2 separate regions of the Homo sapiens genome follow, and region 2 is linked to region 1. The links come from fine-mapping of genetic effects on gene expression. A gene starts in region 1. The other region holds a variant in brackets. All regions are shown on one strand. Distances are between the middles of the regions.

Evidence for each region.
Region 2: its variant is fine-mapped to the expression of ZMYM1 in whole blood (TOPMed, PIP 0.98).

The regions. Positions count from the first base shown.
Region 1 is chr1:35,077,036-35,082,412 of GRCh38, reverse strand. It overlaps ZMYM1 (zinc finger MYM-type containing 1), which reads right to left and starts at 3,028. Exons shown (of 10, transcript NM_024772.5): 1 at 2,971-3,028. RefSeq lists an enhancer at 2,603-3,121.
Region 2 is chr1:35,120,325-35,125,701 of GRCh38, reverse strand. It overlaps the pseudogene EFCAB14P1. Among named protein-coding and RNA genes, the nearest start is that of ZMYM1, 44 kb to the right of the region's middle. RefSeq lists an enhancer at 4,609-4,728. The variant T/A (reference allele first, on the strand shown) is at 2,246.

The DNA of each region.
Region 1 (5,377 bases):
GTTGCAGTGAGCCCAGATCATGCCACTGCACTCCAGCCTGGGTGACAGCGCATGACTCCATTTAAAAAAAAAAAAAAGTTGGAAAGGAAGAAAACTTTTTATTTGTAGACATGACTGCATATAGAAAACTCTAAGGAACCTCCCCCAACTCACCCCCCGCAAAAGAAACTATTAGAATAAGTGAATTCAGCAGAATTATAGGATAATACAAGATCCGCATTTTAGAATTTTTCTTATCACTTATCTTCAACATTGTAGTAGAAGTTCTAGTTAGATCAATAAAGCAAGAAAAAATAAAAGACAAACTTTGAAAAGGCAGTTAAAATTGTTATTATTCATGGATGACATGATTCTATACAAAGAAAATTCAAAAGAATCTCCAAGTTATTAAGCTTAGCAAGACATTCGAAAATAAATTTTGGCCAGGTGCAGTGGCTCACGCCTGTCATCCTAGCAATTTGGGAGGCAGAGATGGGTGAATTACCTGAGGTCAGGAGTTCAAGACCAGCCTAACATGGTGAAACCCGTATCTACTAAAAATACAAAAGAATTAGCTGGGCATGGTGGTGGGCACCTGTAATCCCAGCTACTCAGGAGGCTGAAACAGGAGAATCACTTGAACCTGGGTGTCAGAGGCTACAGTGAGCCGAGATTGTGCCACTGCATTCCAGCCTGGGTGACACAGTGCGACTCCGTCTCAAACAAACAAACAAAAAATCAATTTTATTTCTTTATACTAGAACAGAAAAATATAAAAATAACCATTTTCTGCAGCATCATAAATATCAAATATAGGAATAAATCTAATGAAAGCTATTAAAGAACTCTACAGTGAAAACAAAACATTGCTGAGAGAAATTAAGGAAGATCTAAATAAATGCTCATTGATGGAAAGAGTCAATATTAATTTTTCTCCTAATTAAGCTGTAGATGAAAATCCCAGCAGGGGTTTTTGTGGAATTTGTAAGGTAATTCTAATGTATATACAATGTGCATACAGAGCCTAGCATAACCAAGACAATATCAAAAAAAAAAAATGTTGGAAGGGCTTATAAAGCTACAGTAAATTAAGATAGTGTGGTATGGACACAAGCAAAAACAAAACAGAGTCTGGAAGCAGATATACTCCTATCCCTTATTTCTTCGCATTATACCACTTCTTTATACATTACACTTTGCTAAGATTTATTTTATTCGGCCGGGCACGGTGGCTCCTGTCTGCAATCCCAGCACTTTGAGAGGGTGGATCAGCTGAGGTCGGAGTTCTAGACCAGCCTGGCCAACATGGTGAAACCCTGTCTCTACTAAACAAAAATTAGCCAGGTGTGGTGTAATCCCAGCTACTTGGGAGGCTGAGGCAGGAGAATCACTTGAACTGGAGGTGGAGGTTGCAGTGAGCTGAGATCGCGCTACTGCACTCCAGTCTGGGAGACAAGAGTGAAATGCTGTCTCAAAAAAAAAAAATTATTTTATTCAACTGAGTTCTGCAAGGTCTTTTACTAGCCTGATGGGAAGGCTGGAGGCAGAAGGCTATATGTTTTTCAAACCAAACTAAAATGTCCATGGTTAATTCTGCAGGCAATGAAGAGCCATCATTTCCGAAGTGCCTTGGTACCGGGTTACACTGATGAGTAGGATGTCCCAACCAGTAAGTATATACAAGGTACTGAGAAGAAATGAAAAAAGAAGACGGTCAGTCTTCTGGGAGGTGAAATTTGAGCTGGGTTTTAAAGTGTCTACCAACCAATGATGGCGGATATTCCTGGTATAGAGACAGCATGTACAAAACCACAAATAGCCGGGCACAGTGGCTCAAGCCTGTAATCCCAGCACTTTGAGAGGCCCAAGCAGGTGGATTGCTTCGATTCAGGAGTTCGAGACCAGCCTAGGCAACATGAAGATAACCTGTCTCTACAAAAAATACAAAAATTAGCTGGGCGTAGTGGGGAGCACCTGTTGTTCCAGCTACTCTGGAACCTGAGGTGGGAGGATCGCTTAAGCTCGGAAGGCTGAGGCTGCTTGTGAGCCGTGATCGTGTCACTGCACTCAGCCTGGGCCAAAGAGCGAGACCCAGTCTCCAAAAAAAAAAAAAAAAAAAGAAGCACAAATATATGGGAACTAGAAGGAGTGGGACTGTTGTTGCAGATAAAGTACAAGTGCAAGAGTGCTAGTAGAAGGAACTGGAAAGTTTGAAAAGTAGACATGGGTCATGTCAGGAAGGTCCCTGATACCAAATACCTTAAAATTAATCTTGTAAATCAGCAGCGTTCAAACTGTGCTTTTGGGGTTCAGCAAACATTTCATTTTTTTTTTTGAGACGGGGTCTCGCTCTGGAGTGCAGTGGCACGATCTCGACTAAATGCAACCTCTGCCTCCCGGTTCAAGCGATTCTCCTGCCTCAGCCTCCTGAGTAGCTGAGATTACAGGCGCCTGCCACCAAGCCCAGCTAATTTTTGTACTTTTAGTAGAGACGGGGTTTTGCCATGTTGGCCAGGCTGGTCTCGAACTTCTGACCTCAAGAGATCCGCCCGCCTGGGCCTCCCAAAGTGTCGGGATTACAGGCTTGAGGCACCACGCCCGGCCAGGAGTCAAACTTTTGAAAAATCACTGCTCAATGAAGGAGAGATACAGGTGTGATGGGGCTTCTGAAACGGAGGCTGCGGAGCGAGACTAAAGTCTGAAGGCCCAGTTACTACACAGGAGCAGGAGGCGGCGAGAATCGCTGGAAGCGGGGAGCACTAACCCCCCCAGTCTATGAGGGCAAGGTTAAAGGAGGCGGCAAACACAATCCACGTCAGGGCCTGGCCCGGAGTTCCCGACCCCCATCTGGCGGAATCCGCACTCAAAGCTCCGTCTCTAAAACCCCGACCCGGCGCGTCATCCTCCCTCCGACCGACAGCAGAAACCCTGCCCCTTTCGAGTAAGGCGCAGGAGTAAAGACCGAAACCAGAGCCGCATGAGGAGGCTTACTAATTTCTCTCAGGGACGCCCCGCCCAACGCTTCTGAAACAATCTTCGAAGCGAAACGGCCCCGCCGACCCCGCCCCTCTCCCGTCGTGCTCTGCGGTTGAGCATGCGCAGGGCCGCTGGCTCAGGGTGGTCCCAGCTCCCTGAATTGGGAAGAGCGACTTTGGGATAGAAGAAGTGGGAGAGGGGGAGGGGAAGAGTCCTTACGGCCCGCATAGGATCTTACCCTTGAAGTCGTCGCTGGCTGGCAGCCAAAGTAGGACCCTTGACTCAGAGCTCAGGCAGGGCAGTTAGATTTCCTGGATTTGAGAGATGGCTTTACTACTTATTAGCTGTGTGCTAGTAAGCGATTTGACAACTTCTATAAATCTCCATTTCTTCGACCTTGAAATGGGGATAATTGTAGTGGCTGCATCGTAGGTTTGTAAACATTAGGCAGGCTTCTGCAGAAGCTGGACTCAAAAAAAAAAAATATGACAGGCAATGTTAGCAAAGTGCCAGTTGCAGAGTAAATTCCTAGTAAAAGGAAATTATCCTCAGAGGTAGGGAGGGAGTTCAGACTTCTTTCATTAGTACGTTAAAATTAAAATGACCCCAGGCTGGGTGTGGTGGGTCACACCTATAATTCCAGCACTTTGGGAGGCCGAGGCGGGTGGACTGCTTGAGTTCAGGAATTCAAGACCATCCTGACCAACATGGTGAAACCCCGTCTCTATTAAAAATACAGAAATTAGCCGGGCATGGAGGCGGGCGCCTGTAATCCCAGCTACTTGGGAGTCTGAGGCAGGAGAATCGCTTGAAGCCAGGAGGCAGAGGTTGCAGTGAGCTGAGATTGTACCACTGCACTTCAGCCTGAGCGACAGAGAGAGACTGCGTCTCAAAAAAAAAAAAAAAAAAAAAAAAAAAAATTAAAATAACCCCAAACTGCATGTCAAAAATAATGGCATATTTTAAATGTTTTTTGACAATACTTTCAACACCTAAAAAAGTATAGGACGAACTAACTGTGCTATTCCTAAAGGCATAAGAGGATTCTAAAATATATATATAAGGTTGAATGATGAACTTATTATAATCATATTTGACAATTACTTTTAAAGGAGATATTCTCAAAAATCTAAATTTGAGGCCCTTGTGAAGGTGAGGTCCAGACCAAAAGGGCCTCCTAATCCTTGCTGCTATGGTCCTTAAATATCCTTTGGAATTAGCCTCAAATCTAATATAAACCCTTTGGTAATTTGAAATATTATACGAGTAACTGAAGTTAATTTCTCCAACATTTATTATTACCTTCTAATATTCATAATAATCTGTTTAGACTGTTAGGATTAGAAAGGACCTTACTGAAATGATCTCTCCTCTAATGCTCCCTTCCTACCAAAGGAAAAGCTGAAGGCAAGAGGATAAAGGTAATTTGCCCCAAGTTACACAGCAACTCAGTGACTGGGATTAGATTGGAACCCAGAAATGAGTCCTGGTTCAGTGGGCATCCAAAGGCAAGTGATGTCATTGTAAATGCCCCGTGGGTTCACCTTGCCCGCTACCTAAACACAGTCCATTTATCAAGACGGGGAATTGCAATAGAGAAAGAGTAATTCACGCAGAGCCAGCTGTGCGGGAGACTGAAATTTTATTATTATTTAAATCAGTCTCCTCGAGCATTTGGGAATCAGAGTTTTTAAGGACAACTGGTGGGTGGGGGGAAGCCAGTGAGCCAGAAGCGCTGATTGGTTAGGTAGGAGATGAAATAATGGGAAGTTGAAGCTGTCTGTCCTCATGCGCTGAGTTAGTTCCCTGGTGGGGGCCACAAGATCAGATGAGCCTGTTTATCTATCTGGGTGGTACCAGCTGATCCATCAAGTGCAGGGTCTGCAAAATATCTCAAGCACTGGTCTCAGGAGCAGTTTAGGGAGGGTCAGAATCTTGGCCTCCAGCTGCATGACTCCTAAACCATAATTTCTAATCTTGTGGCTAATTTGTTAATCTTATAAAGGCAGTCTAGTCCCCAGGCAAGGAGGAGGTTTGTTTTGGGAAAGGGCTGTTATTGTCTTTGTTTTAAACTATAAACTAAATTCCTCCCAAAGTTAGTTTAGCCTATGCCCAGGAAGGAACAAGGACAGTTTAAAGTTAGAACCAAGATGGAGTCCATTAGGTTAGATCTCCTTCATGGTCTCAGTCATAATCTTGCAATGGTGGTTTCATCGTCATTACTAACTTCCTTGGGAGTTGAGTTGAAAAAATGGTAGGATTCATGATATCATAAAAAATTGTAAGGATGTGTGATAATTTTGAGATGTGATATTCCAACCACCCCCAGTGATAGATCTGAAAATTTGGCCCAATATTTCAAGCAGTAGATGTAGGTCACAAGTTTCATGCGTCTTTCTTGCCCTGAAGTCTCAATAGTTTA
Region 2 (5,377 bases), 43 kb before region 1:
CTTAAAGCAAAAAAAATGAGTTATGGGAGTTATAACATATGTAGAAGTATTGTATGATGAGTTCAAAAGTTGGGACGGCAGAAGTGGAAGTATATTGGTACAGGAGTCTCATCCTATACGTGAAGTAGTGTAATATCAATTGAAGGTGAATATGTATACTACATACCTGAAAGCAACCACTTATAAAACAAACAAACAAACAAAATGAAGTGTTATACTAATGATAAGAAAGGCGATAAATATATTTATTTATTTTTGGAGATGGAGTCTCGCTCTGTCACTAGGCTGGAGTACAGTGCCACAATCTCAGCTCACTGCAACCTCCGTCTCCCGGGTTCAAGTGATTCTCCTGCCTCAGCCTCCCAAGTAGCTGGGACTACAGGCACACGCCACCACGCCCAGCTAATTTTTTGTAGTTTTAGTAGAGACGGGGGGTTTCACCATGTTGGCCAGGATGGTCTTGATCTCTTGACCTCATGATCCACCCGCCTCAGCCTCCGAAAGTGCTGGGATTACAGGCTTGAGCCATCGTGCCCGGCCAGAAAGGAAAAAAAAAAAAAAAGAGAGAGAGAGAGAGAGAGAGAAAGGGGAACAAAGACACATTGGTCGAATAGAAAACAAATAGTAAAATGGTAGATTTGAGCCAGGTGCAGTGGCTTACGCCTGTAATCTCGCACTTTGGGAGGCTGAGGCAGGCAGATCACCTGAGGTCAGGAGTTCAAGTCCAGACTGGCCAACATAGTGAAACCCCATCTCTACTAAAAAACCACAAAATTAGCTGGGATTTGTGGTGCATGCCTATAATCCCAGCTACTCAGGAGGCTGAGGCAGAGGTTGCAGTGAGCCGAGACCACACCATTGCACTCCAGCTTGGGTGATAAGAGTGAAACTCCGTCTCAAAAAAAAAAAGATGGTAGATTTGAACTTGATCATATTAATAACCACATTTTTTTTTTTGGGACAGCATCTTGCTCTGTCACCCAGGCTGGAGTGCAGTGACACAATCTTGGCTCACTGCAGCCTTGACCTCCCAAGCTCAAGCGACCCTCCCACCTTAGCCTCCCAAGTAGGTGGGACTACAGTGCATGCCACCACACCCAGATAATTTTTTGCTTATTTTTTTTGCAGAGACTAGATCTCACTATGTTGCCCAGGACAGTCTTGAACTCCTGAGCTCAAGGGATCTGCCCACCTTGGCCTCCTGAAGTCCTGGGATTACAGGCATGAGCCACCATGCCTGGCCACATTAGATATAAATGGTCTAAATACCCCAATGAAAAACCAAAGATTGTCAGATCATACTGAATAAAAAAAGACCCAATCATATGCCACCTACATAAAGGCCACCTTAAATATAAAAATAGACATAAATTAAAATAGGCTTATATTTTGATAATATAATAATTAGGTGTGTACCCTTATAATAGGGGACAGTGGCTCATACCTATAATCCCATGTTTTGGGAGGCCAAGGTGGGAGGATTACGTGAGGCCAGGACTTTGAGGCTAGCCGATGCAACCCAGTGAGACCCCGTCTTTACAAAAGTTTAAAAATTAGCCAGGCATGGTGGCACATGCCTATAGACCTAGATAGGAGGCTGAGAAGGGAGGATCACTTGAGTCCAGAAGGTTGAGGCTGCAGTGAGCCATGATCATGCCTCTGTACTCCAGGATGGGTGATAGAGCAAGACCCTGTCTCCAAATAATAATAATAATGTTGGCTGGGCGCAGTGGCTCACGCCTGTTATCCCAGCATTTGGGAGGCTGAGGTGGGTGGGTGGATCACCTGAGGTCAGGAGTTCGAGACCAACCTAGCCAACATGGTGAAACCCCATCTCTACTAAAAATACAAAATTTAGCTGGGCGTGACGGTGCGTGCCTGTAATCCCAGCTACTCAGGAAGCTGAGGCAGGAGAATCGCTTGAACCCAGGAGGTGGAGGTTGCAGTGAGCCAAGATTGTGCCACTGCACTCCAGCGTGGGCGATAGAGTGAGACTCCATCTCAAAAAACAAATAAACAAAAAGACATACCTGTTCTAAACACTGCACACTTAATAAAGATTCAAAATACACAAAGCCAAAACTGCTAGAACTGCAGGAAAAATAGAGAAGTTCATAATTAAGTTTGGAGATTTCAGTATCCCTTCATAATCAATATACATTTAAATAACTCATAAAGGAGGAATCAAAAGGAAAATTAGAATTTTTTATTTTTTTGAGATGGAGAAATGGACAATTTAAAAAAT[T/A]TTTTTTTTATGGTTAAATATTACTTTTATGTTTTAATTAATGAATTAATTTTTTTAAATTGAGATGGAGTCTTGCTCTGTCACCCAGGCTGGAGTGCAGTGGCGTGATCTCGGCTCACTGCCGAACTCTGCCGCTGGGTTCAAGCAATTCTCGTGCCTCAGCCTCTGGAGTATCTGGGATTACAGGTACATGCCACCAGGCCTGGCTAATTTTTTTTATTTTTAGTAGATGAGGGTTTTGCCCTGTTGGCCAGGCTGGTCTCAAACTCCTGACCTTGGGTGATCTGCCCACCTCGGCCTGCCAAAGTGCTGGGATTACAGGCGTGAGCCACCATGCCCAGATACTTTTATTTTTCTACCTATTTTGGTTTAGGACAGATGCCTCTGACTTGAATAGACCATCAGAGATGTGTAACATTAATTTTAGAAAACCACTCAGAGAGCTCCCTTAGGAAACAACACAAGTTTCTGCTTTCCCACCACCCATGCTTCTGGACCTGTGCTCGCAGAGAAGTCCTCTGTTATCAGGCTGGCTTCATAAGTCAGTCCCAGAATCTTTGAAGGCATGTTGATGCTGAAATGGAAAGGGTTTCAGTGCAATCTCTTCCAGCTTCATAGATGAAGCCCTAGGACAGAAGTAAACTTTCCTATTTACAGCAGGTCCTTGAATAATGTTTTGTTCAACGTCATTTGGTTATAACATTGAGGAGAAAAAAATCTGACTCCTGGCCGGGCCACTGTCTGTTTGCATGTTCTCCCCATGTTGGCGTGGGTTTTCTCCAGGTACTCCCACATCACAAAACTGTGCATGTTTGGTTAGTTGGCATGCGTAAATGGTCCCAGTCTGAGTGTGAGCGTGTGTATGAGTAAGCCCTGCGATGGGATGGCTTCCTGTCCAGGATTGGTTCCCGCTTTGCACTCTACGCTGCCAGGATAGGCTCTGGCCACTCATGACCCGACCCTGCACTGCTTATTCATTTCCGTGATGTTTATCCAGACTTTGTTCAAACTCATCTCTCCAGATTCAATCTTCTCAAGTTTTTTTTGCTTGCTGAATAGTTCTTCATTAAGTTTGGGGATTTCCTGGAATGAGCTTTTCTGATTAGATTCCATTGTTCGAAATTTTTCCTTGAGGGCATCCAGATCCTCCTTGAGAGCAACCTGCATCCACACCAAGCCAACACAGGCCACAACACAGGCAGAGAGGGTGACAAAACCACAGAGCGGATAGCAGATCTTGCAGCATCGTCAATAGCCTCCCTTGGCAAAGCGAGAGCGATTTCCAACCACACCGAATTCCTCTTCCTCCTTGGAGCTGGACTCAGAGTCTAAGTCAGGAGGCTCAGGGCGAAGCAGGCGGTGACTGCTTGGGCTTCTTTCTCTGGCTGTCCCCAGCCAAACCAATCAATACATTGAGCTCTTTGGGCATTTTCATCTTCTTGTGTGGGGTGAGTGGAGCCCCGACTCCTGAGCTGCCAGGTGCGCACCCGACGCCCAATTCTCTTCCTGCGTTAGAGCTGCCTTCCAGGGTTGGGGATCCTGGGCCAGAGCCCCCTAGTCACTCCGCCAGGGACTGGAGATTGGAGCCCAGAGGAAGCTGGAACTCAGATGGGTGGGGGAAGTCACATAGAAATGGCCAAGGAGCTGATGACCCCAAGGATAAGGGCTGGTGGGCAGAGCGTTAGTAAAGAGGGTGGAAAGGGACCTTTATCTCCCAAAGGGCGAAAAAAGCCAAGTCAAAAATGAAGGATTCTCAGCCCTGATGAGTAGGCAATACTTCTAAGGGTGCTGCTCCAGGAGCTGGGGAAGGGCACACAAAATAGATGTTTTGGACCTCCGGGGCAGAATTTTCAATGGAGAGGGAAGAGAAACTTATTTATTTATTTATTTATTTATTTTTTCTTTGAGACGGAGTCTCGCTCTGTCGCCCAGGCTGGAGTGCAGTGGCACGATCTCCACTCACTGCAAGCTCCGCCTCCCTGGTTCACACCATTCTCCTGCCTCAGCCTCCTGAGTAGCTGGGACTACAGGCGCCTGCCACCACGCCCGGCTAATGTTTTTGTATTTTTAGTAGAGACGGGGTTTCACTGTGTTGGCCAGTATGGTCTCGATCTCCTGACCTCGTGATTCGCCTGCCTCGGCCTCCCAAAGTGCTGGGATTACAGGTGTGAGCCACCGCGCCCGGCCGAGAAACTTATTCTTGAGTGGGAAGAGTGGGGAGGTGCAGAGCAAGAACGTGGGAACGCGTCAGTCCCTTCCTAGCAGAAGAGGTGGCGGCAGGAGGGAGCTCCCAGCAGCTACAACCCCAACACTGCTTGGCCGCGGAGAAAATGCCCAGGCCAGGAAGCCGGCTGGGGTGTGTGATGATCACCGTTCTCTGGCCTCTGTCCTGAAAGTGAAAGGGGCCCGAGGCTGAGAAAGATCCGGAGCCCGGCTCTAAGGGCTCATCCTGAGAGAAGCCAGTCCCGCGCCTACGAGACCTCCGCCCCGCTGTCTGGGCCTGGGGGTCGCCGTGCGGCGGGCTACGGCTGCTCAGCCAACCGATAGCGCTTCCGCCTGGAGTTTGAGGTCTCAGGCAGGGGCAACTCTCAGTCACTCAAACGCGCAGGCCCTACTCTAGCCGCAACTCTGGCCCCTGCTCCGGCTCTGGCCGCGGCTGCTCCCTACACGTTGTTGTTATTGTGGGCGGTGGAGGCCGCGGGCTCCAGACCCAGGCCATCGCTCCGGCCCCATATTTTTAAAAATTTATTTATTGAGACAGTGTCTTACTCTATCATCCAGGCTGGAGTGCAGTGGTACAGTCACAGCTCACTACAGCCTCGACCTCCTGGGCTCAAGCAATCCTCCCACGTTTGCCTTCTAAGTAGCTGGGACTACAGGTGCGAGCCACCACGTCCAGCTTTTTTTATTTTTTGCAGAGACGGGGTCTCACTATGTTGCCCAGGCGCTTTTAGCTTGTTTTGAAACATCATGTTAATTTTCACCTGTTTGGTAGGGATTTACTTTGCTGTTTTCTATGCAATTTTGTATTATATTTCATAATCTTTTTCTGTTGCTTACTTTCACGTGAAATGCATTTTCCTGTACTTATTGGGAGAGACACGACAGAATAGCTTTTCTAGCCTCAAGGCT